Regions from separate parts of the Homo sapiens genome. Here region 2 is linked to region 1. The links come from fine-mapping of genetic effects on gene expression. A gene starts in region 1. The other region holds a variant in brackets. All regions are shown on one strand. Distances are between the middles of the regions. Region 1 holds the start of OVOL2 (ovo like zinc finger 2). Region 2 holds the start of LOC105372545 (a long non-coding RNA gene).

What was found. PIP is the estimated chance that this variant, and not a neighbour inherited with it, causes the effect.
Region 2: its variant is fine-mapped to the expression of OVOL2 in unexposed skin (GTEx, PIP above 0.99).

What each region holds. Positions count from the first base shown.
Region 1 is chr20:18,051,807-18,064,530 of GRCh38, reverse strand. It overlaps OVOL2 (ovo like zinc finger 2), which reads left to right and starts at 6,615. Exons shown (of 4, transcript NM_021220.4): 1 at 6,615-6,996; 2 at 7,654-7,874. The coding sequence starts at 6,897. RefSeq lists a silencer at 7,932-8,021 and enhancers at 7,423-8,210, 10,538-11,038.
Region 2 is chr20:17,212,154-17,224,877 of GRCh38, reverse strand. It overlaps LOC105372545 (a long non-coding RNA gene), which reads left to right and starts at 6,622. Exons shown (of 3, transcript XR_937290.2): 1 at 6,622-6,779; 2 at 6,878-6,967; 3 at 7,945-8,095. The variant T/C (reference allele first, on the strand shown) is at 5,302.

The sequences.
Region 1 (12,724 bases):
ATATACATGTATATGTATTCACACACATCTAAATGTTTAATCCACCAGAAACTGATATGTGTGTTATTCAGTTTCCTTTATTTTTCCCAAACGGATAAGCACTTGTTCCAATTCCATGTATTGAATATGACATCTTTCCCTGCTGCACTGCATACCCTCTCTCATAAATCAATGCACACATATGTGTGGGGCTGTTTCCAGGCTCTCTCTCAGGTACCAGTGGTCCCTCTGTGAATGAAAGCCACATCATTTTAATTACTATTGATATCTGATTGATCAAGCCTACACACCTTGTCCTTCAGGAGTGTTTCGACTCTTCTTTCACATAAATTTTGAAAGAAATTTATCATGTCCCACAAAAAGACTGTCAAGTATTTTTAAAAATTGTATTATATCTATAGATGAATTTGGAGATTTTTGGCCTCTTTGATTCTGAATCTTCCAATCCATTAATATAGTAAAACTTTCCATTGATTAGTGTCTTCTTTAATGTCTTCCAATAAAGTTTTTTGTTGTTGTTGTTTGTTTGTTTTTTAGACAGGGTCTTCTTTTTTGTGGCCCAGGCTGGAGTGCAGTGGTGCCATATAGGATCACTGCAACCGCCACGTCCCGGGCTCAGGTGATCCTCCCACCTCAGCCTCCCGAGTCTCTGGGACTACAGGTGCACACCGCCATGCCCGGCTACCAATAAAGTTTTCTAATTTTATATACAAAGAGCTTGCACAATATTTTCAAAAAATCAATTGCAAGGGACTTTGTATTTTTGTTGTGTTTTAAATCATTTTTCATTAGACTTTTTATTTTTCTGACAGTTGCTGGCATGTAGAAATTTAATTGACACTGAAACCTTACACACTCAGATTCTTTTTTTTTTTCTGAGACCGAGTCTCGCTCTATCGCCAGACTGGAGTGCAGTGGTGCGATCTCGGCTCACTGCAACCTCCACCTCCTGGGTTCGAGTGATTCTCCTGCCTCAGCCTCCCGAGTAGCTGGGACTACAGGCATGCGCCACCATGCCCAGCTAATTTTTGTATTTTTTAGTAGAGACGGGGTTTCACCGTGTTGGCCTGGATGGTCTCAATCTCTTGACCTTGTGATTGCCCACCTTGGCCTCCCAAAGTGCTGGAATTACAGGCATGAGCCACTGTGCCCAGCCCACACTCAGATTTTCTACACTGCAATCTTGCTAAAGTCTCTTATTAATTCTAATAATTTATCTATAGATTCTTTTGGGTTTTCCGTAGACAGTGATGCTGACTACAAACAATAGTAGTTTTGTTGTTTTCCCTTATAATCCTTATACTCTTATTTCTTCTTTTTTGCCTTGCTGTACCTGCAAGGAAGCAATCTAATGTGAGTGGGGTGGTGAGAGCAGGCACCCTTGGCTTGTACTTGGGTGCTTTTTCCACTAGTGAGTTCAGTGGGTAAAAATATATCATTTTCCTAATACTGTACTATACTTCAATTAAAAGTTTAGGTGGGAGGCGCGGTGGCTCACGCTTGTAATCCCAGCACTTTGGGAGGCCGAGGTGGGCGGATCATCTAAGGTAGGGAGTTCAAGATCAGCCTGACCAACATGGAGAAACCCCGTCTTTACTAAAAATACAAAAAATTAGCCGGGCATGGTGGTGCATGCCTGTAATTCCAGCTACTCGGGAGGCTGAGGCAGGAGAATCGCTTGAAATTGGGTGGCGGAGGTTGCAGTGAGCCGAGATCGTGCCATTGTACTCCAGCCTGGGGAACAAGAGCGAAACTCTGTCTAAAAAAAAAAAAAGTTTAAATAAAGTTTCCTTAGGAATATTTTCTCAACAACATCTTACCCTCTCCTTATTGCTGTGTGCTCCAGGGATGCCACTGAGCAGGTTTGTACCTGCCTCCTTTCAACCTGAATATATATTACTGGAGAAAAGAAGTCTTAAGTGAGGGTGCAGATGGCTGCTTTCAAGAATTTGAAGAGCTACCAGGGGGAGGGAGTACAGGGGGAGTCTCAGCAGCCCTGGATGACAGAATAAAAGGGGAGATGGAAGGGCAGGAAAGCAGATTTCCACAAGCAGAAAGAAAAGCTTTCTAGCATCATTGTTGTCTAACCAGAGAATAGGTTGCTTTTTGAGACAGTGAGCTTCCCAACACTAGAAGTATTCAAGCAGGGCTAGATACATACCTACCAAGGATGCTGTACAGACCCCTCACCCCCAATATTGGGCGGGGTATGGACCACATTATGTCTCCTGTCTCTTCCAACTTCAGTCTTGAGATTTGTAAAGAATTGGATTCATTTCTTCTTTTTTTAAAATTGAAATTGTTTTTATTAACATCTTGTGTGTGTTTTTAAGTTCTGAGTATTCAACTTTGACTATGACCAAAATGTCTATATTTAAAGAGGTAACAAGGTATTTAACACATTGTGTAATATGAGCCAGATAAATTGCTTTCATACTGAGGGCTCCGTCCAAATAAGGCAGAGGCCACGATCCCAGGTGGAAGGAATGGAAATGAATCTATTTCAAGGCCAGTAGCTACACCCAGAATTCACTCAACTCTACCAAACGTACCTGCACTATCTCAGCAACACATCTCTACAGTTTGACAAGACAATCAAAAGTATATTTTGTACTTAATGTAATAAGAGGCTCAGATATAAATGTCTACTTTTATATATTTTTAACTTATGCAGATCGTTTGTTATTTAATAAATAAGTTAAACTGACTTTGTTGCAAATGAGATATGAGGATGTGCATATGAAGAATAATTGGGCTGGGAACAGTGACTCACACCTGTAATCCCAGCACTTCGGGACGCTGAGGCGGGTGGATCATAAGGTAGGAGTTCGAGACCAGCCTGGCCAACATGGTGAAACCCCATCTCTACTAAAAATACAAAAATTAGCCAGGTGTGGTGTCAGGCGCCTGTAATCCCATCTACTCAGGAGGCTGAGGCAGGAGAATCACTTGAATCCAGGAGGCAGAGGTTGCAGTGAGCTGAGATCTCGCCATTGCACTCCAGCCTGGGCAACACAGCGAGACTTTTTTTAGACAGAGTCTTGCTCCGTCACCCAGGCTGGGGTGTAGTGGGGCAATCTTGGCTCACTGCAACCTCCACTTCCTAGGTATAAGTGATTCTTCTGCCTCAGCCTCCCGAGTAGCTGGGATTACAGGTGTGCACCACCATGCCCAGCAAATTTTTGTATTTTTAGTAGAGATGGGGTTTCACCATGTTGGCCAGGCTGGTCTGGAACTCCTGACCTCAGGTGATCTGCCTGCCTTGGCCTCCCAAAGTGCCAGGATTACAGACGTGAGCCACAGCGCCCAGCAGAACTTGAATGGTACTTAGTTTCTCATAGCCTATTTTCCCTCCTTCTTAAAAAATGGGACAAATAATATTGCCAAATGAATGTAAATAAAGGTATTTAGGAAATAATGTGAAAAAGCTTTAAAGCATTATTTACTTTTTCTTTTCTTTTTTAATTTTAGATTCGGGGGTACATGTGCAGGTTTGTTACATGGGTAAATTGCATGATGCTGAAGTGTGGGCTTCCAATGATCCTATCTCCCAAATAGTGAACACAGGCCGGTTGTGGTGGCTCATGTCTATAATCCCAACACTTTGGGAGGGCGAGGGGGGCGGATCACTTGAGCTCGGGAGTTCGAGGCCAGCCTGGCTAACATGGTGAAACCCTGTCTCTACCAAAAATACAAAAATTAGCCAGGTGTGGTGGTGCATGCCCATAGTCCTGGCTACTTGGGAGACTGAGGCACGGGAATTGCTTGAGCCCAGGAGGCAGATGTTGCAGTGAGCTGAGATCTCACCATTGCACTCCAGCCTGGGGACAGAGGGAAACTCTGTCTCAAAAATAAAATGAAAATAAAAACAAATAGTGAACATAGTACCTGATAGGTAGTTTCTCAAGGCTTTCCCCCTCTCTCCCTCCCCACTTTTGAAATCCCCTGTGTTAACTGTTCCCATCTTTGAATCTGTGTGTACCCAATGTTTAGCTCCCACTTCTAATTGAGAACCTACAGTATTAGATTTTCTGTTTCTGAGTTAATTTGCCCAGATAATGGCCTCCAGTTGCATCCATGTTGCTGCAAATATGTGATTTCATTCTTTTTTGTGGCAGCATAGTATTCCATGGTGTATATGTACCATATTTTCTTTATTGAGTCCACCATCGATGGGCACCTGGGTTGATACTATGTCTTTCCTACTGTGAATAGTGCTGCAATAAACACACAAGTGTTTATTGGTAAAGCGATTTGTTTTCCTTTGGTTGTATATCCAGTAATTGGATTGGTGGGTCCAGTGGTAATTCTATTCTTAGTTCTTTGAGAAATCTCCAAACTGCTTTCCACAGGGGCTGAATTAATTTGCATTCTCACCAACAGTGTATAAGCATATAATAGTAGTGCAAGAAAAGGAGAATTGGGTTCACTTCTTATCCTGCTTTCTGGGATACTCTATCAACTCCTCTCATAATACTTAGAAAACCGACCTTACAATGGAGGCAAGTCAACCAAGATAAAAGCTGGTTCTTTGTACATGTTAATAATTTTGATAGACCCCTATCACATCTGATCAAGAAAAAAGAGAGAAATAAAACACATTAAATTCCTTTCTCCTCAGGAAGCACCCAGCAAATATAGTAGGTGTGCATCCAACGACCATAGAATAAAAAGGTTGTTATCCTGTTAAGTCTTCATCCCCAAACCTATAAAGGTTGCATTGCTTTGGAGGTTTCTAGCCTTATACCTCATCATCCTATAATCTTTTAAAATAATACAAATAGGCAAAGTAGTCAAGACACTCACTGGTTTGAAATCCAGTGAAAGGAAAAAAAAGCTTTGTTAATGGAGTTGACAGCCTCTTCTGTATAATTGGAAGTTCTGAACGAAGTGAAGTTTTGAAGATTTTTAAAGACTGGGAATAATTCTGTAACTTCATAGTTGTACTTCATTTTTACTCTTCCATTCACCCAAGCTCCTTCTTTCTAGCAAATCCCGTTTGTTGGTGGATAAAAATACATCTGCAGAGTCTCCCGGAAGCTGCCCCATCAGCCTCATAGACAAGAAGCCTTGTTTTCCTGCACCGCTACAGAAATGTCTTCCTCCTCCTCCTCCTCCTCCTCCTCCTCCTCCTCCGGCTCACCGGGATCAAAGTCTTTTTCGTTCTTAGCTGGTTTTTCTTAGAGAAAAGCTGGAGTTCAGAGTTCAGTCCAGAGAGGGTGACTCCTTGAGGGCAGACCTAGAGGCGCCGCGCACCGGTCCCGCCCGCAGCCCCGGCAGAGCTGCGCCCCGGCTCCCTGCGCCGCGCGAGTCCGCCAGTAGCGCCGAGAAATCCGTTACCAGGCGGTTGTGTCCCCAAGGGCCATTCAGGGCGGAAGGGAACAGGGAAAACCGCTGTGTTGATTCCCGGGCCCTGTAGGCTGGGAGCGCGGAGGGTCAGGTTACAGACAGGTGAGGCTGGCTGTTGGGTGAGCCTTGGGCTCCAGGGCATCCCTGACCAGACGCGCCCCCGCAGCACCCGGCAGCTGGCACACGTCTGACGACCTCCTGGAGGAGGGCGACCGCAGCGACACAAGAGGCTGTGCCGGTTGTCCTGGGCGCACCCGAACAAGGCCTTGGGAAGGGCAGCGCGCCCCGCAACGTGAGCACAACTGCTTTACAAACTTGGCATATTTTACCAACTCCCCCTCCTTCTCTCCCTCTCCCCTCCAGGCATAAAGGTTGATAGGAACAAACAGATATAATAATAAATGCAAAGCTTTCCTACCTCCCCGGTAGGGGCGGCTAGAAGATGTAGCCAATGTTCACTATGCTAGCTTCCTGGAAAGGTATTTCCCAGTCTCAGAATTTGGGGATCGGGTGGTTAGGAGAGGCAACGGTGGGAGTGGGCGAGGATTGGGGGCTTGTTTTGAAGCTGCATTTGCATAATATGCTCCTGGCTTTTGTTTCTATTGTGTGTTTACTTGGGGTGAGGGGGCTCTCGGGGGGTGCAACGTCTTGTGAGGAGAAGCTGCTTTGGCGGGGCAAGGCTTGTTTTTCTTAGATTGTATGATACTAGTCAGAAAAATAACGTGGTCTAAAGATGCCGAATTTTTAAATTTATTTTTACTGCTTATGGGGGGGGGGTGTTGTAGCTGATGGAAAGCTTAAGCCCCTAAGCCCCCACCCCCCATTATTAATAATCAGAATCCTTGGAAGTCTCCCGCCGCCTCCCCCTTCTGACCGCCCAGATTTCATCAAGCCCCAGGAAGGCTCCACAAGGTCCAGGGGAACTGAGCCATTTTCTGGCTCGTCGAAGACAAATCCACCGGGCGGGGGAGGGGGGCAACTCGTGGGAGGCCCCAACTCACCGGAGGGGTGCCCTGGGAGGCGAACCTGGGGTTTACCTCGAAGAGCTCGCCTCGAGGTGCAGGTGATGGGGGAATGGGGCGGGGGTTGATTAAAAAATGTTCTTCCTTTCTTAAAAAGAGGAGGGGGAAGAACAGACTTTAAATTCTTTTGCAAACATTCATGCCTAAGGAAGGGCTGGAACAGGCAGCCCCGGCCGCCGGAACCGGTCGGACAGGTAGCGAGCTTGTTGACACCGTTATGTTGCAGGGCGCATGCTCAGTCCCAAGTTTCCTGGTGCCTTTTCTATTCCACCTTATGAAACTTTTTCCCCGGCGTGGTCTCACTCGCGATTTAAGGCATAGGTGTCGCCGAGCCGGGAGGCTGGGAGTCGCCAGGCGTGCGGGGGAGAGGCCTGGGCCGCGCCGCGGCGGGGGGTGGAGGAAGAGGGCAGGCGAGGCGGGAAGGTGGGCTCTGGCCGCCGGGAGCCGGGGACGGAGCCGCCGCCGTTGCCCCTAGCGGGGAGCAGCCGGGAGGAGGGGGCCGCAGTCGGGAGAGGGGACCCCACCATGCCCAAAGTCTTCCTGGTGAAGAGGAGGAGCCTGGGGGTCTCGGTCCGCAGCTGGGATGAGCTCCCGGATGAGAAAAGGGCAGACACCTACATCCCAGGTGAGCGCGCGCGGGGGCCGGGCCTGGGCGCTGGGCTCCCGGGGTGGGGGAAGGGGTGGCGGGTCTTCTCTGCTCATCGGCAGGGGCGGGCTCCCCACCTCATCCCCCTCTTCCGGGGGGCACGCGGGGGTCTTCTAGGCGGGTTAGGGCAGGCAATGAGGGACTGGGATGCCCCAGACTCTAGGCGCCCCCTTCCCCGTAGTGGGAGCCTCTAATTGCCCGGCGGCGGGACCGTTGGCTGCAGCGCGGGCCAAGGTGGCCCAGGAAAGGGATTGAAAGCCAGCAGAGGCTACCCCCAATCTCACGTCCTCATGGGGGTGCACAAAGGCTCGCCAACCCTTCTGGGGCTAGCTGGGGAGAGGTCAGATCCGCCTCCCCCGCCCTGAGAGGAAACTTGGCGCGCGGGGTCCTCCGCCGCTCGTGGCCGCCCGGTTCCTCGTGGGCGCCTTGGCTGGGACCGGAAAGAGGCTCCGAGCACCCCAAGCTAGCTCTGTGGGCCGATTCGGGGCTTACTGGCCTCCCCCGCGACGTTGCCCACTTGGCGAGGTGCCCAGGTCCGGGGCGGGGCGGCGGCAGCACCGCCCGCAGGTCAAACTGCCGCGGGCGTGCGGGTTGACGCCGAGTGTGTGTGTCGGGGCGCGGCCCCTCCCTCCACAGTGGGCCTAGGCCGCCTGCTCCACGACCCCCCCGAGGACTGCCGCAGCGACGGCGGCAGCAGCAGCGGCAGCGGCAGCAGCAGCGCGGGGGAGCCTGGAGGAGCAGAGAGCAGCTCGTCCCCGCACGCCCCCGAGAGCGAAACCCCCGAGCCCGGCGACGCCGAGGGCCCCGATGGACACCTGGCGACCAAGCAGCGCCCGGTCGCCAGATCGAAAATCAAGGTACTGTGTCGACTCTGCCCCCGCCGCCACCTGCACCACGCCCTGGCGTCGGGCTCCCGAGGCCGGCGCCCCTCCCTGCCGCGCCCGCCTGCGCAACCCGGCACCCGCGCCCCGAGCGCGCCCGCCGCGCCGCTCCTGCACCTGCCCCTGGGCGGCGGCCAGGGCGCCTCGGCGCGTCCTCCCGCCCGCAGGGTAGCTGCTGCGCAGGGGCGGCCGGTTCCCGGAGTGGGCTCCGTCCTCCCGGTGGCCCCGCCTGATGCCGAGTGCTGCCTCTGGAACTGCCGAAAAGGCACAGGCATCACTGCCTTCCGCCAGCAGCCCGTTCTGTGCGCTAGGCCTGTAGAATAACCAAGGCCGTCGGAGTTCCTGAGGTTGGAAAGGAAGCCTCAGCGCTCTCAGAAATTCCACCCTCTGGGACGCAGTTCCTGGCGCCGCGATTCTGAGAGTTCACCCCCCATGCTTATGTTCTGGACCTGGGCGGCAGCTTGACACATAGTGGGCCTCTCCCAACATGAACCGGTTCCCAGTGTCTGTCAGACAGGAGGCTTGTGCACGGCACTTTAGATCTGTCATCTTTCCAATCTTGAATTAAATTGATGGGTAAAAGGGTTCAACTACAGATTTCTCGAGCGCCCCTACCCCAGTGGATTGGAGTGTTTCCTCCCATCTATGGTCGCGCCTCGGGGCCCCCTCGAACATTCTGGACGCCCACCTGCGCTTTCGGGCAGAACTTCCATGATGGTCTGCTCAAAGGTATCCGCTACCCACCAAGGTTTAGGAATCCCATTCCACTGACTCAGCCAGCTGGAGCTAGGAGGTGGTGGTTTATGATCACTTGGCCCCTCTTTCTAGCCTGGTGGGCCGCAGTGCTACACTGTGCACCCCCTAGACCCCCGGTGCAGGTGGTAATTCCAGGGCTCTCCGGTGCCCTCCTGCCACCCAGACCGGGAGTAGAGGGCGGTGGGGAGGGAGAGCCTGGGCTTTGCTGTGGATTGAGAAAGGACCCCTCATTTTCCTGGGAGAGGTCCCCTATGCACATTGCGTATTCCCAGGGTTTGACTCCGGGGTGGGCTGAGGCGCATTTGGTTTTGAACTGAGGTTTGAGGCTTCAGCTGGGATCCAAAGGAAAGACCTCTTTAAAGAAGAAGCTGCCGAAACCGTGCGGGCCGGCAGCTTAGCGGTAAGTGTGAGGGTGAGGTTCAAAGTCAGCTGGCCTGAGGCTCTTCCGGGCCAGGTGGGGTTAAGTGGGAGGGAAAAATTTGCCTGAGGCTGGTAGCTCTGCCCTTCGGGAGATTCTACAAAGTGCCCCACTTGCATATTTATCACCAGGCTGGAAGGACAATTGCAACGTTGTTTTGGGAGCCTCTGCAGCTAGTTTGCCCCTCTGTCCCCCAATTGCCCAGATTCCCCTGGAGAGAAAGTGACAGATTCTCATCCAGTCTCTTAACAAATATTTTAGGCAAACTCTTCTGCCTCAGGCACACAGGGCCGTTGGAATCCTGGATTAAAGGAAGACGTAAACCAATCTTATTTCCTAGATTAGTTGCCTGTGTGCTGGGGGAAGGGGGGCGGGAGGCACAGTTCACTCCTGAACCGTTAAGAGTCTTCTTTCCATAGTTTCCAGGGGAATTTTTATTTACTGGGGATGTTTAGGTTCCCTCTTTCTGCCTCTACCCCCAAAAAGGAAACATTTTGGTGTTAATATGCTCCAAGCCTCCAGAATTATTATCAGCCATGGCATTGGCAGTTTTCAAATGACTGACCAAATTGCCTGTGACTTAGCACGTTGTATAATTATAAAGTTCTTTCCAAGGCATGCTGAACTCACAATTTCTCTAAGAATTAGTTTCTTTTCTTTTCTTTTCTTTTCTTTCTTTTTTTTTTTTTTTTGAGATGGAGTTTCGCTGTTGTTGCCCAGGCTGGAGTGCAATGGCTGGATCTTAGCTGAGTGCAATGGCTGGATCTTAGCTCACTGCAACCTCTGCCTCCCGGGTTCAAGTGATTCTCCTGCCTCAGCCTTCCGAGCAGCTGGGATTACAGGCATACGCCACCATCGCCGGCTAATTTTGTAATTTTAGTAGAGACAGGGTTTCTCCATGTTGGTCAGCCTGGTCTTGAACTCCCGACCTCAGGTGATCCGCCTGCCTCAGCCTCCCAAAGTGCTGGGATTACAGGCGTGAGCCACCGCATCCAGCCAAGAATTAGTTTCTTAGGCAGTGGGCTCCCAGGACCACAAGAAGGGCAGGTTTGAGCTATTGCCTGGCACAGAGAAGCAACACTCTGCCCGTCTAACACCTGGGGTGTGCAAGGCAGCAGGAGGTAAAAATGCTCCCACCCTGGTGTTCCTTCCAGAATCATCTGGCAGTAGCGGTTAATCATATAAGCTCTGGCTTTGTCACTTCTTAGCTGTGGACCTTGAGCAAGTGGCTCACCCCTCTGAGCCTCGGTTTCCTTATCTGTAAGATGATAATGATACCTACTTGATAGCATCGTGAGGATAAATGAGTGGAGGGTAGAACATGGTATGTGCCCAATAACCATAGATAGTATTCAGGTTAATAGGGAGACACAAACATTATTAACTCTGCTGCAGGACAGTGAATGTGAAACCAGAATTCCAAACAAAGACGTGACCGATTTGAGTGGGGAAAGTGTCCTGATGTGGATTTGAAGGCTGGGGAGAAGGGAGGCGGGTGGGCCTGAGGGCAGTGTGGGCTGAGTCCCGCAGCTGGAGCATAGAAAGGATGAAGCTCTGGTGGCTGAAGATAGGAAACAGGGCTTGCTGGGGTCAGGGAGAGAGTTGGCGGTAAAGAGCTGGAAATGTAACCAGGACAGGGTGAGATGGTGAAGGGGCCAAGCCAAGAAATATGGGTGCTCCTGCTGGGCAGAGGAGAAGCTCTGGATGATGTAAGAAGGAAAACCTCAATCGGGTTCCTCTTTTTTTTTTTTTTTTTTGAGACAGAGTCTCTCTCTGTCGCCTGGAGCTGGAGTACAGTTGCGCAATCTCAGCTCACTGCAAACTCTGCCTCCCAGGTTCAAGTGATTCTCCTGCCTCAGCCTCCCAAGTAGCTGGGATTACAGGCACCTACCACAAAGCCTGGCTGATTTTTGTATTTTTAATAGAGACGAAGTTTCGCCATGTTGTCCAGGCTGGTCTTGAACTCCTGACCTCAGGTGATCTGCCCACCTTGGCCTCCCAAAGTGCTGGGATTACAGGTGTGAGCCACCGCGCCCTGCCATTTGGGTCCCTCTTAACGGCTGTGTTCATGGATCATTATCTCTTCTGAGCCTCAGTTCCTTGATCTGTAAAGTGGAGGACTCAAAGAATCAGCCTCCTAGAAGAGTTGCATAGATTAAATGAGATAGTGGGTGTAAAGTGTTTAGCTTTCTGTGCATGTGTAAACTGCCCAAGAGGAAGTTAGCTGACAGTGACATACAGCAAGTTTTAATGCCCAACATTTTGTTGGCTGTAAGGACATGGGATTCACTAACTTGATCGTGTTGATGGGTGGATCTGGAAAAGGAGTCCGAGGTGCAGATTAGGAAATGTGGCTGGCCCTTCCCAGCCTACCTGCCTTTTGACGGTGTGCCTCAGGGCAGATTGTGAAATTGTCTCTTTACTACTGAGAATTCTGTAATTTGCCAAACAAATAAGGGTGAGAAGATGATGTACATTCCAGAGAGTGTGCATGGCAGGTCCCTTTTGTGCTGGATCCATCTGCAGGTCTTCAGCTGCGGGGTAGAGAAACCCAGGAAATACTAATCACCATTGTCCTTTGGAGGCTTATTAGAAAGTAAGTAACTCTGAAGTTGGCTGATAGTATTCATACGTGATTCTCTGGCTGGTAGGACCCAGGTCCAAGTATGGAGTACCAAGTGAATTTGTCCTCTCACCCTTTCCTATTCTGTTCTTTCTTTTTGTCCTCTCCCATGGGTTCTTCAAAATAAATTAAGTTTAGATTCTTTCAAAAGTATGCTTGGCCTTTTACCCGGCTCTCTATCGAGTCTTGTAGTGGTGCAGATGTGTGTCTACGGAGTAGTCCCCATACCCCCATCACTTTGTATTATTTACAATCTCAAAGGCATAGTCATACGTATCTGCCACCCAGCCCCAACAACCATTAACCCATGGCCAGTCCTGCCCAGCCACACTCCCACCCCTTGCCCCATGCATGATTCTGAAGCAAATCTAGGACATCATACCATTTCAACCATAAATAGTTCAGAATGTGCGTTTAGTGGATAAAGACCAAAATTCATGATCACACCCACATTACCAATTGTGTTCACATTACTAATTGTCTCATAAATTAATACTTTTCCCCTCCAGTTTGCTTAATCAGGTCCACATAATGTCCACACATTGTAATTGATTGGCATGTCTTTTGAGCCTCTTTTAATTTCATACATTTTCCCTCCATCAAGTTAATTGTTGAAGAAATGGGTGATTTGTTTTGTAGAGTCCCCAACAGTCTGGATTTTGCTGAGCGCATCACCATGTGCCTAATGTTTCTCAGTCCCCTAGGTTTTCTCTAAACGGATAGTTGGATCTGCAGCTGCAGCATCCAGTATCACATGTGACTATCACAGCCATAGTCAATTAAGAATTAACAATTAGACCAGGCGCCATAGCTCATGCCTGTAATCCCAGCACTTTGGGAGGCCGAGGCGGGCGGATCACCTGAGGTCAGGAGTTCAAGACCAGCCTGGCCAACATGTTGAAACCCCGACTCTATTAAAAAAAAATACAAAAAAAATTAGTAGGGCTTGGTGGCATGCACCTGTAATTCAGGCTACTCAGGATGCTGAGGCAGGAGAATCGCTTGAACCCAGGAGGTGGAGATTGCAGT
Region 2 (12,724 bases), 840 kb after region 1:
ATGGAAAGATAATTTTTTTGGTTATTCAAATACTAAATTTTCAATACACAACAATGTAGTAAGCAAGTGGAAGAGGAAATGTATTTATCCCTTGGATATCTATTGATACATTGTTATTTGAAATGCTAATACACACCCATGTGTGCACACAAATTGCTCTTTTAGACAACTATTTCTCAAACTCCTTTTTCCAATAACAATAGTCAAGGTGGACAGTAGAGAGAATGGCAGCAGCACATTTTGAGGATAGACCTAGAAGCCTGTTGCCAGGGACCCTATTGCAGGCTCTGCTAGTACTAGGTATGTATACCACTTGGCTGTGGGCCAACATATTGCACCTCTCAAAGTCTCTATCTTTCTATCTGTGAAAAGAGACTGTTGGATTAGATACCTCAGAGCCAAAGTCTATAATTTCAAAAGAGTTGTGAAAACATACGCTGTAATGTAGGAAGCATCATCAATAGTTTGAGAAATGCTGAGGACCACAATACTATTTAATAACATATTGTGGCCAACAGGCATACTTATTTTTGTGTAACCTCCCCCAAATGGTCTCATATTTATCAGTTTTGTGTACTTGAAAAAATAATAACTGACACAAACAGATTGACAGCACGAGATATAAAAATCACCAATACCTGGAGCTTCTTTTCATTTATTTACTTTTGTATCTGTAACAATGACGTCGGGTGTTTGGTTCTGGCTCAGATGTGCCACAGGCCCCCAGAGTCTCTTTGAAGATGTTGTCCTGCAAAACAAGACTAGAACTCTCCCATTTTATGGCTTAATACTAGAAATCAAGAGACCTTGGGTGATTTTTTAAAAAACCAAAACCACCTGAGGCATGATTGGGATACTCACATTTAGATGTACTTCTAAAAGGAGAACTTTGGATTCATAGAGCATCATGCCAAGGAAAACCTACCACTGGGGGTACAGAGCAAGCCAGAAGCAGCCGTAGGAGAGTCCCCCAAACCTTTGAATATTCTTTGGACTACTGGAGAAAGATCTAATTTTTCTGTTGATTTCTCTTCAATTGTGTGGGATGTGTAATCTGGAGAGAAATAGGGTATATACCACTGAAAATCACAATTTAAAATACAGCCTTGTTAAAAATCAGGTTGGGCTTTGCCATTTTTGCTGCATTCATTGCAAACATTTTAAATGCAGTAATGGTACATTAATCAGGTAGGAACAATTCTCTACTGTCATATTGTACTGTTGTATTAGTTTGTTTTCACATTGCTGATAAAGACATACGTGAGACTGGGCAATTTACAACAGAAAGAGGTTTATTGGACTTACAGTTCCGCATGGTTAGGTAGGCTTCACAATCATGGCAGAAAGCAAGGAGCATCAAGTCAGGTCTTACATGGATGGCAGCAGGCAAAAAAAGAGAGCTTGTGCAGGAAAACTCCCCCTTATAATAACCATCAGATCTCATGAGACGTATTCATTATCACGAGAACAGTATGGGGAAACTGCCCTCATGATTCAATTACCTCCCACTTGGTCCCTCCTACAACATGTGGGAATTATGGGAGTACAATTCAAGATGAGATTTGGGTGGGGACACAGAGCCAAACCATATTGACTGTCAACCCTTTCAATGGATTATTCCTAAAGACCCTGCCCTGTCTGTTCCCTCCATTCCAGCCCATATGCAGGCTTTCTGAAATATCGTTACCACTTTACAGATCTTTGCCCAATTTTGAACTCAGCATTGATCAAGTCTTTTTTTTTCCACCAGACTATTCTTATTTTCCAAGAACTCACCTCATTTTCCTCTAGTATTTACATATACTCTCACATTTGCTATAACTAAAAATTCAGATACTTGGGAAATTTTAGTTTCTCAGTATGCACCCACTTCTAAATCACTGTGATTCAGTTGGTCCTACCTCCAATTCCTATAGCTTTCACCAACTTGTATCTTTTCCTTAAATAACCTATCTCTGTTTTTCCTTCAGTTGAAAATTCTCAGCTGATTTTTATTATTTAAGCCATCTTAAATTAATATAGTGAAGAGAATTTATATGGCTTCAAGTGTTTATTATTATCAAAGTATTGAATCTACAGTGCTTTGGGTTATATTCCTTTTGTAATTTCATCAAAGTCATCCAATTTACTCAGACCAATCATCTCTTCACAAACAAAAGCTACTTCTCACTTCCTTATTTTCCAGGACAGTGAAAATTTGCTTCTTTTGCTAATTTAGGTTCTATTATTTTGATAGGATTTGAAGCAGCTAAACAATGAGGACGAGCGGCCCTTTTAATCTTCTTTTGAAAATTAGGAACACATTGCTATTCACTATCTTTAGATTCCTTTTCAGGTCTACGGGACTACAGAATAATGTTTGCTCACTTAGAAAAGTAATTAGTTATTTCTCAGGGTTTATTGGAACATTGCTTATTGTCTGCGGAAAGTGATTATCTATTCATGAATTCTCTACCTTGTGTTATTTCTCTTTCCTTTTTCATGATCTTTTAAAAACCATAGTAAATCTTTCTCAATGTACTTTTTAAATAATTATGGAAATTATCTTCAACAAGGAGTTTTTTTGTGTTTCTCAAACTACTTATAACTCAGAAATAATTCAGAGAGAACAAAGTATATGCCTTGTTAGCAAATATAAACAGGAATTTTAAAAGATAAAAATTTTATGTGTAAAATAAAATTTAATACATTCAAACGTGTACACTAATTTTATAAGGTAAACTCTGCCCATTATAATGAAACATAAGATTCTAGGAAACTACTTACTTTGATCTGAATGCTTTGGATAATTATACACTATTTAGTATCAGTTTGAACGACCTACCCCGAGTAGATAAATTGATGTATAATGTTACTTAACATGCTAGAGGAACAGTTATAAATTTATGGCTGTGCTCTCAGATATTTTCCACTCTTTTGAAAATATTCTATACTTTCATAGATGTTTTGGCAAAACGTGGCATTGTCTATTTTTAGGGAATTTCACTATATGATATTTACTTTATTGTCTTATGATACTGGAGTGAACCAAAAAGTACACCCTTACAAACAGATATTTCTAGAATTAGTCACTCAATCCTAGTTTGTAGATTTATTTTCTCTTTTAAAATCCTACAATCCAGATGTTATAATTAATATAGGACCTAGTTAGATTATTTTAAAGTTCTAATAACACATTCACTATGCATTAATTTCTTTTTAATTTTTCAAAACAGCTTTGTTAAGGTATAGTTAACATATAGTAAACTGTGAAGTTTGACTAGTTTTGCAATTTAACTAGTTTTGATATATGTATGCACCTGTGAAATAATCCCTGCAGTCGGATAATGAATATATCCATTTTCTCCAAAAGATTGCTCATGCCATTTTCCTATGGCTCCCTCCCACACTTCTCCCACCCCTTCACACCACCCATCCTCAGTCTGCCACTGCTTTGCTTTATACCACTATAGATGAGGTTGCATATTTCCTGAATGTTATATAAAGGGAATAACATAATGTGTACTTGTTTTTGGTCTAGATTCTGTCACTCAGCACAGTTATTTTGAAATTTTCCATGGTGTAATGTGTAACAATATTTTATTCCTTTTTATTGTTGGTTAGTATTCATCGCATGACCGATAGCACTAACCGTTTGTCTGTCCACTAACCTGTTGATGGACATAAAACATACACATAGACCAATGGAACAGAATACAGAACCCAGAAATAAATTCATGCATTTATAGCCAAATCATTTTTTATGAAGGTGCCAAGAACACACGTTGGGGAAACGATAGTTTCTTCAATAAACGATGCTGGGAAAACTGGATATCCACATACAGAAGAATGAAACTAGTCTCCAATCTCTCAGCATCTAAAAAAATCAACTCTACATGTATTAAAGATGTAATTGTAAGACCTGAAACTACTAGAAGAAAATATAGGTGGAATGCATCTTGAAATTGGGCTAGACAAGAAGTTTTTAAATAAAAACTCAGAAGCACAGGCAACAAAAGCAAAAACAGACAAAAAAATTACATTGAACTAAAAAGCTTCTGCCCAGCAAAAGAAACAATAGAGTGAAGAAACAACCTACAGAATGGGAGAAAATATTTTCAAACTATGTGTCTGACAAAGGGTTAATATTCTGAATATATAAGGAACTCAACTCAATAGCAAAAAATCAAATAAACTAATTTAAAAATGGACAAAAGGACTGAACAGACATTTCTCAAAAGAAGACATATATATGGCCAACAGATGTATGAAAAACTGCTCAACAACATGAACATCAGAGAAATGCAAATTAAAACCATGACAAAATACCACCTTATCCCAGTGAGAATGGTAAATGTCAAAAAGACAAAAAATAACAATTGCTAGCAAGGATGTAGAGAAACGAATACTCATATACATTGTTGGTGGGAATGTAAATTAGTACAGCTATTATGGAAAACAATGTGGACGTTCCCCAAAATATTAAAAATAAAATGTCCCTGTGATCCACAAATCCAATTATTGGTTATATGTTTTCAAAGAAAATGAAACTAGTATGTTGAGGAGACATCTGAACATCCATGTTTATTGCAGTGTTATTCCCTGTACATTAATTTATGCCAGAAGTTACATACCAGTGACATCCAGTTCACAGGTATGTTTTATAGGAAATGTGGTGTCAATAAAAATAGTCACAATCCTTTAAAAATTATTATTTCCCATAAAAATTCAGAGATGTGACTTCTTTTGGAATAACCAAAGATTTGGCAACTTGGTCACAATTAGCTAGTTAGTAGCTGTTGTTCTCCCCACCCCATGTAACAAGGCCTGATATGCTCAGTTCACAAGAATCCTCATCCCGCCTCCTGACTCATGTGTTTTACTTTTCTCACCCTAAAGTCATCTGAGTTTATGACTTCTGGTTTAAACAATCTACAGTGTCTCAGTTCATTTTGCTATAGAGATTTTTTTTTCACCCTAAAGTCATCTGAGTTTATGACTTCTGGTTTAAACAATCTACAGTGTCTCAGTTCATTTTGCTATAGAGATTTTTTTTTCACCCTAAAGTCATCTGAGTTTATGACTTCTGGTTTAAACGATCTACAGGGTCTCAGCTCATTTTGCTATAGCGATTTTTTTCAGTTATTGTTATTATTTTATTTTAACTTTTATTTCAGGTTCGGGGTACATGTGAAAGTTTGTTGTATAGGTAAACTAGTGTCATGGAGGTTTGCTGTACAGATTATTTCATCACCAAAGTATTAAACCTAGTATCCAATAGTTCTTTTTTCTTCTAAAAATAATGTATTTAATAGAACACAT[T/C]CAAAAAGATGAAAATAGAAGTATATTCTCTAAATAATTATTAGCATAGATGAAAAAATAAACTCAGACTTTCAGAATACAGACTTGCAAGAAATGGAAGCAGTCTTGGCCAAAGCTACTCTTTGCCTACCTCTGAGGACAAGGAATAGACAAATTGGCATTACCTCCCTTCTCTGGTAGTGAAAACCTTTGCAAACGTCCAATATCATTAGTTTTTATGTTCTGTATTTTGCTATAAGCTAGTCCTTAGAGGAAACAGCATTATCAATGCAAGGACAGTGAGATGTTAAAGTAAAGTAGGAATTTATCTATAAATGCCCAAGAAAGGTTAGAGTGGCATTATGGGAAGATCGTGAGGCTGGAAGTAAAGATTCTTTTGTTTGACGTCGGCTCTAGGTCATTTTAGTCATGTGACCTGAAGGAAGCCATTTTACCCTCTTGGTCTCAACGTAAATTGGGATGGGGATTATTTGCTTAGACTGTGTCTGAGATCAAATTAAGGGCTGACATTCAATGATAATATTTTAGATCAAGGACCCACTTCTCTTGTGCATCTCCTATCTCTTAAGGAATACTGGCTGCATGAGTTATACAATAGCACATGAAACATGGAAGTGCATTTATACAAAGTATAGCAGTCACATAGTGCCCCTGTAGTGCTGTGGAAAAAATCATCTTAACTGTAATAGCTTACAATAAGTATTTTATTCTCACATTACAGTTTTCTGTGGTTTGGCTGATCTAGAATGGGATTGGCTGAGTAGTTTTACTTCATGCTACAGGTTGGCTCAGCTTAGGTTCCAGGCTGAGTTTGGTTTTTGTCTGTTCCACACATATTTTTTTCTGTAGCCCAGGCTAAAGTGGTAGCAGCTACCTACCCAAGACGTGCTCTTATCATGGCTTAATACTGGAGCTTAAAATCCAAGCCAAGCCATGCAAAAACAATAAGGCTTTTATTGCATCATGTTTACTAATGTATTGGCCAAAGCAAATCACATGGCCAAGCACAACACTGTTTATAGGGAGGGTGAAGGAAGAGAATATTTGCTGAACAGTAATCTAAACTACATACCAAGAAAGGTCCGCCATCTACAGATATTTTTATTAAAAAGTGTATTTTCACAAGTTAGTATAATTTAAACAATTGGCTCAGGAACCATTTTAAAGGGTTGATTTTTTAAGATTAATATCTGTAATACACGTGGGGAGTCTTGTTCTAAAATGTTGAGAAAAAAACTTTTAATAATCTCATTTGTGCGTGGAAAAATGAACCACCCTCCCCCTAGAGTACTGGAGGATTAGAGTGGGCGTGCTTTTGGATATTTTCTTAAGAATGGCTAGGTAAGCATTGCTGGGGGCTGAATCTGACACAAATGGCAATGTTCAAGGTGATGACAACAGAAGGAAGGCTTATCTTTTTCAAAATTGGATCAGCTCAGACTCAACTATAATACAAACATATGAAGCCCTGAGTATAGGTAACAGAATTTAGTTATGTTATCCTTAGATTTTTGGACACATTCCAGATTGTAGTTTCCTGCTTGCATTAATCAGAATTCTTTCTTTTGGTTATAAGGGATAGAACTACAACTCTAACTGGCTTTAGCAATGAAGAAAATTTCTGGTTTCACATCTTTCAAGGGTCCAGAGGTGGCTACAGATTCAGGTATGGCTGGATGCAGAGCTTTCACCATCTTCACTTGTACAGTCCATTACCCTCTTTGATGGCTTAACCCCAAAGGAAAGTTTCTTTTCCCCTGTAATGTTTATAAAATTTTGGAATAGCAGTTCATTAATTTGGCTTGTAGCATGTGACCAATTCTTTCCCAATTGGGTTCAAGTATTGAAATCAGCTACCTGGCCAGGCCTGTGTGTTGTGCCTTCTGGAGCTGACATGGGATGTTAGACTAAGCTAAACCACGTGGACTAAGAAAGGAGAAGTTTTTATTATACAGAGGAAAATATGGGGGCTCTTTTCCAGAGAAAGGTGCGAGGATGTTGGACAGATAAAAACAACAGATGTCTATTACAATATCTGTTCATCAAAATGAACAATGCGTTAGGGTGAGGGACAATTTATGAAGCAGGAGTATATTGAAAGGTGTTAACTAGAAAGCTAAAATGTTGTAAACGGTACGGTGCTATACTAACGTATCCTCTAAGTGCCAGGTGGAGAGAGTGACATTTGATGAATTGGTTATTTATTTGTAGATGTTAAGAAGGACGTTTCATCCATTTGGGCCCAACAGCAATGTTAACTATTAGCCAATAGCATCAACATGTCACTAATTTGTATCTGGTGACTTGTTGATGATGGGTTGACTCAGCTTACTAGAGTATGGGGGTGACATAGCCAAATAATGGGTTCAGCCTTCATGAGGGAAGTCAGTCATTTTACCATGTAGCTGTATATAAATGCCAGGATTAAAATGGTGATTAAAAGTAAATATTTAAAAAGATTCATATCTGTGCCAGAATGTGTCTTCATATCTTTTTTCTACTGTCAGGGAAAGGAGGGCCCTTGTTCTTAATTCCATGAGATGGCAAAATCGTCTAAACTTTCATCATTGCCTACAGTACTTTATGTATAATTACATTGTTTCTTCAAGGTGCCCTTATTATTTCTCCTCTCATTTTTCCCAGGAGACTTGCACCAGGAGGAACTGGCAAATTTCCTTGGCAAGAACAGATGAATAAATAAGAAGCATGAGCTTGCGACTTTTAGCTGGGGTGATTCGTCAAAAACCACAGCACTGTGGCTGTTTTCAGATTTTAAGGGTTATGTTCAACCTCAATCAAGGGGAGTTTTGAAAGCTGTTATAAATCATCAAATAAATTGAGGAAAAAAATTTGGTAGAACATGATGTTACTTTTTCACGTATGGCTGAATATATTCACCTGAAGGTTTTTCCAAGCTATGCTAGTGTTAGGCAATGACGATTACCTATTCATGTTTGTCTAATGTTTTGAGTGGTGAGTGGCATTGAGTGAGGAATCTCATGATGAATAATTGGCTTTAATCCTCAAGAGAGGACAAAGTATCTGAGCAAGATACCCCTGAAGATCAGTCACTTGCTATAAGTACCAAGTGGTCAATATGGATAAATTGGGTTCTACAATATAGATCATATTGGGTTTATAATGCCTCTGCAATTTTTTCAACATTATTTTGTAGATCCAACAATGCATACTATATGTGTCTGGTTATTTCTGTTTTCCCTTCAGATCTCCTCTCCATGGTTCTCCACTGTGTGCTGTGCCTGGAGATTGGCTTTTATGGACCACATCAATGAGATTCATTGCTTTATGGCCTCCCACTGGATTCAGCCAACAGGAAGTGCATTTAAAAACTTGGAGAGTTGGGTGGGAGAGTCATCTCAGGATTTTCATTTTCCAGGCTCCCTTCCTGCTGGCTCATTACATACTAACTTCATTCCTGTCCCAAATGCTGTAGCTCCCATCAGGGAGCCCTCTCCAGATTCCATTAACCTTGCCATTCCCTTGTCTCTTTAGGCCTAGCAGGATAATGACTCCAATCTGTTGCTAGTCCCATGGACTTCACTATGCTTCATTTGCTTTATTCTTCCATACATTTGTAAGTAGTCCCTCAACAGACTCTCCTCAATTACTCCATCTGTGTAAACCAACTCTTTCATACTGACATCCTGACTGACATATCACCTATGTAAAATATGACACATGCTATACAAGGGATACATTTACATTCAAATTATGACATATTTAAGTATAGCATTTGTAATGAATATAACAAAAACAGCCTTCTGAGAGGCTGGCTGGGTGAACACAGTAGCCAACATTAACAAAACAAAACAAAACAGAAGAACACAACTTAGAAGAACAAAAATGTGACATATATTTGGGCAAAAGAAATAATACAAAGGAAAGTCATATTAAGAGGCAAGGAAAAAATTGCAAAATCCATTAGCAATTTTGGGAAAAGTCCTCAGGGCCAAACAACTAGAATTCAAATTGTGAACAACCAGGAAATCCTAATATCTAAGGGCTAGGAAATTACAAAAAAGGAAAAGGTGGAAGAGGAGGAGGAGGAGAACAAGGAGGAGGAGGAAGAGGAGAAGGACTTACTGAAGGAGAAAAATATGAAGGCTTAGGAAGGCAGGATAGAAGTTATAGGACCCTTCTCCATGGCAGCACTCAGAACCACCATCTGGTACAGTAGTATGGAGGATCTGTCCATGGTTTTGGCCAATTCACAGAGATGAACCTTCCTGCCTCTGCAGACCAGGTGGGCTGAAAGAATTCTTAGTGCCTAACTGATGTGTTTTCAGACTTCCCAGGATATTACTTTGTAGTAAAGACATCTTTCAGAAGAGCAAATTGTACCTGGCTAAAAGAAGAAGGAGAGGTAGATCTCATTTGTCTCCCAGCTATTACGTGTTTGTACATGATTGATACTAACATTACTACCACCAGCAATTGATCTGAGAATATTGCTATGCTAAAAACAATTTACCATGAAGACAGGCACAAATGTGATGACTCTGAGAAGCAATTTCAAAATAAGAGGCCAGGATGAAAATAAATCTGAAGTTCACAAGATGGAAATACTCCAAATGTCTGTGCATAAATTTTGGGCTAAGTTTCTTCTAATTCTTTTATTACTTTATCCTGGGCAAAAGGTGATTATTTTATGTAATGATATGTTCCAAGTATGAGAAAAAATTATTAAAATGAATAGGATGAGAATAAATTAGCTGATACAACAAAGAATTTTTTTTTACGTGTGGAAGAAATCACAACTTAAAAATAAGGTTTTACTCTGTGATTATAAGAACACTAACCAAAGAAATAGGTCTTTAAAAATGTCTTATTTTTTATTTTCATGGATTCAGGGGTACATGTGCAAGTTCGTTACATGAATGTATTGAATAGTGGTGGAATTTGGGCTGTTTTTTTCTTTAAGCTATCTTCAATCCAATCATTCTTAACAGAAATAAATATGTAGTTTCTCATAAAATTATTAAATGTATAATCAATAAGAAAAATCTATCCATCTGGCAGTTTCACAGCTTTGATATTAAATAACTTAAATTTAAAGTGTAAGATTTAATACTAATGGGAGCATTGCAGTGGTTTTTGAAATCTTTTCCCTGCATTGGAATGAATGGTGTAAAGATAGGAAAGGGAAACTGCAATAAATTGCCAACATTGAGGAGAATGGTAATCTAATGAGACCACCAAGCAGAGGCAGGAAGTGTCTTTCCAGCTTCACAATCAAGTTATTAAAAAGCACAGTACAGACTTACAATCACATTTCCAACAATCATCACTTGGAAATGCAAGCACTTGAAATTCACCTTGTGTTCTACCTCTTGTTTTTCATATTCTGATTTTGGAAAAGTCTCTGGGTTCGATGACAAGAATATTAAAGGATCTTGGGACACAGATTGTCGCCCTTATCAAAATGGTGATAGATGAACTGCAAAACCTTTTGGTACCCAGATTTTTATCAAAAATAATACATGAGCTATCTGGTCCACAGGGTTATTTTGGGTTTTAAATAAGCATGCATGAATATATGTATAAATAAAAAGGACCCAGAGATCAGAAGATTTTATTAAAGTCCTTGGGACCCGAATTGAGTTGTTCCAAACCCTAACTGGGCTTGGCCTGGAGAAATCTTAATCCTCCCCATGGCATCTGAAAGTTTCTGGAGATTACTCAGTTTTACTTGCCTTTATTGCTGGGCTTTCTGTGTGCTGATTGGCTAGTCTGGAAAGAATTTCATTAACTGAGACGTGGAACTCAAGGCCCCCTCAAATTTCCAGTCCCAAACCTACATATCAAACCCATAAAGATACTCAGGAGTACTTTTGCTCTGGAGTTAGTAGGAGGCACTCTTTAGGGAAAGCAGGTGAGTTAGTTATAGAAAGTAAAAATACTTTTCCAGTTACATTGGTTTTAATGAGCATCAATAAATAGACCACACAACAATGTAACTATGGAAATTTCCTTAAAGTGGTCCCAAAATAAATACTTGTAATACACAGGCCACATTCAAATAATGTGGTATAAATATTAATTGGTATAGTTTAGTGAAATGTTAGAGGGAAAAAACATGGAAGACTAGAGATAGAATTATTCCGTCTCTGTGATGGTTTGTTCATATAGTAGAGGTGAACTAGAACAAACCTGTGATGTAGCCATCCTTAAATATTCATCAGATATTTTAAAGCAAAAGTAGGTTCAAAGCACCTGGCACAGGCTTTGGACTTAACATATATGTTGCTTTTAGCCAACAGATGCCCCTCCCCTACCAGAAGTTTGACTTATTAGATACTTCTTTACTCATAAACAAAATAAAGCAAAATGCATCTGACAGATTTTATTTTGAAAATTGGTCTGTCTTTAGGAGTTCTTGGAATCTTTGCTAAGGGTCTATTTTGATGATTTTGGTCATCATTTTTGGATAATGGTGCTATGGAGGATGCAAAACAAAAACTGTGACTCTTTTAACCTGCTTCAGACCAGATCATTGGTAGTTTGAACCCATTAGTAGAAAAAGAGGCTATATTTTCACAATCAGGAAAAAATTCTAGGCTGAGCGTAGTGGCTCATGGCTGTAATCCTAGTACTTTGGGAGGCCAAAGTGGGCAGATCATGAGGTCAGGAGTTCGAGACCAGCCTGACCAACATGGTGAAACCCTGTCTCTACTAAAAATACAAAAATTAGCTGGGCGTGGTGGCACACGCCTATAATCCCAGCTACTCAGGAGGCTGAGGCAGGAGAATCGTTTGAACATGGGAGGCGGAGGTTGCAGTGAGCCAGGATTGTGCCATTACACTTCAGCCTGGGTGACAAAGCAAGACTCCATCTCAAAAAAAAAAAAAAAAAAAAAAAAATTCTACCTGTTCACCAGAGCCTAATACTTGAACAGACCTTAAGGTACAAAATTTTAGTTAGATAGGAGGAATAAGTTCAGGAGATCTATTGTACAATATGGTGACTATAATTAATCATGTTGTATCCTTCTTTTAAACTTTTAAGTTCAGGGGTACATGTGCAGGTTTGTTATATAGGCAAACTCCTGTCATGGGGGTTCGTTGTACAAATTATTTGATCACCTAGGTATTAAGCCTAATACTCATTAGTTATGTTTCCTGATCCTCTCCCTCCTCTCACCCTCCAACCTCCAGTGGGTCCCAGTGTGTGTAGTTCCCCTCTGTGTCATGTGTTCTCTTTAGCTCCCACTTGTAAGTGAGAACATGTGACATTTGGATTTCTGTTCCGGCATTAGTTTGCTAAAGATAATGGCCTCCAGCTCCCTCCAGCAGCTCCATCCATGTTCCTGCAAAGGACATAATCTTTTTTGTTGTTGTTGTTGTTGTTGATTTTGTGGTTTTATTTTTGGCTGCTTGTATTCCTTGGTGTATATATGCCACA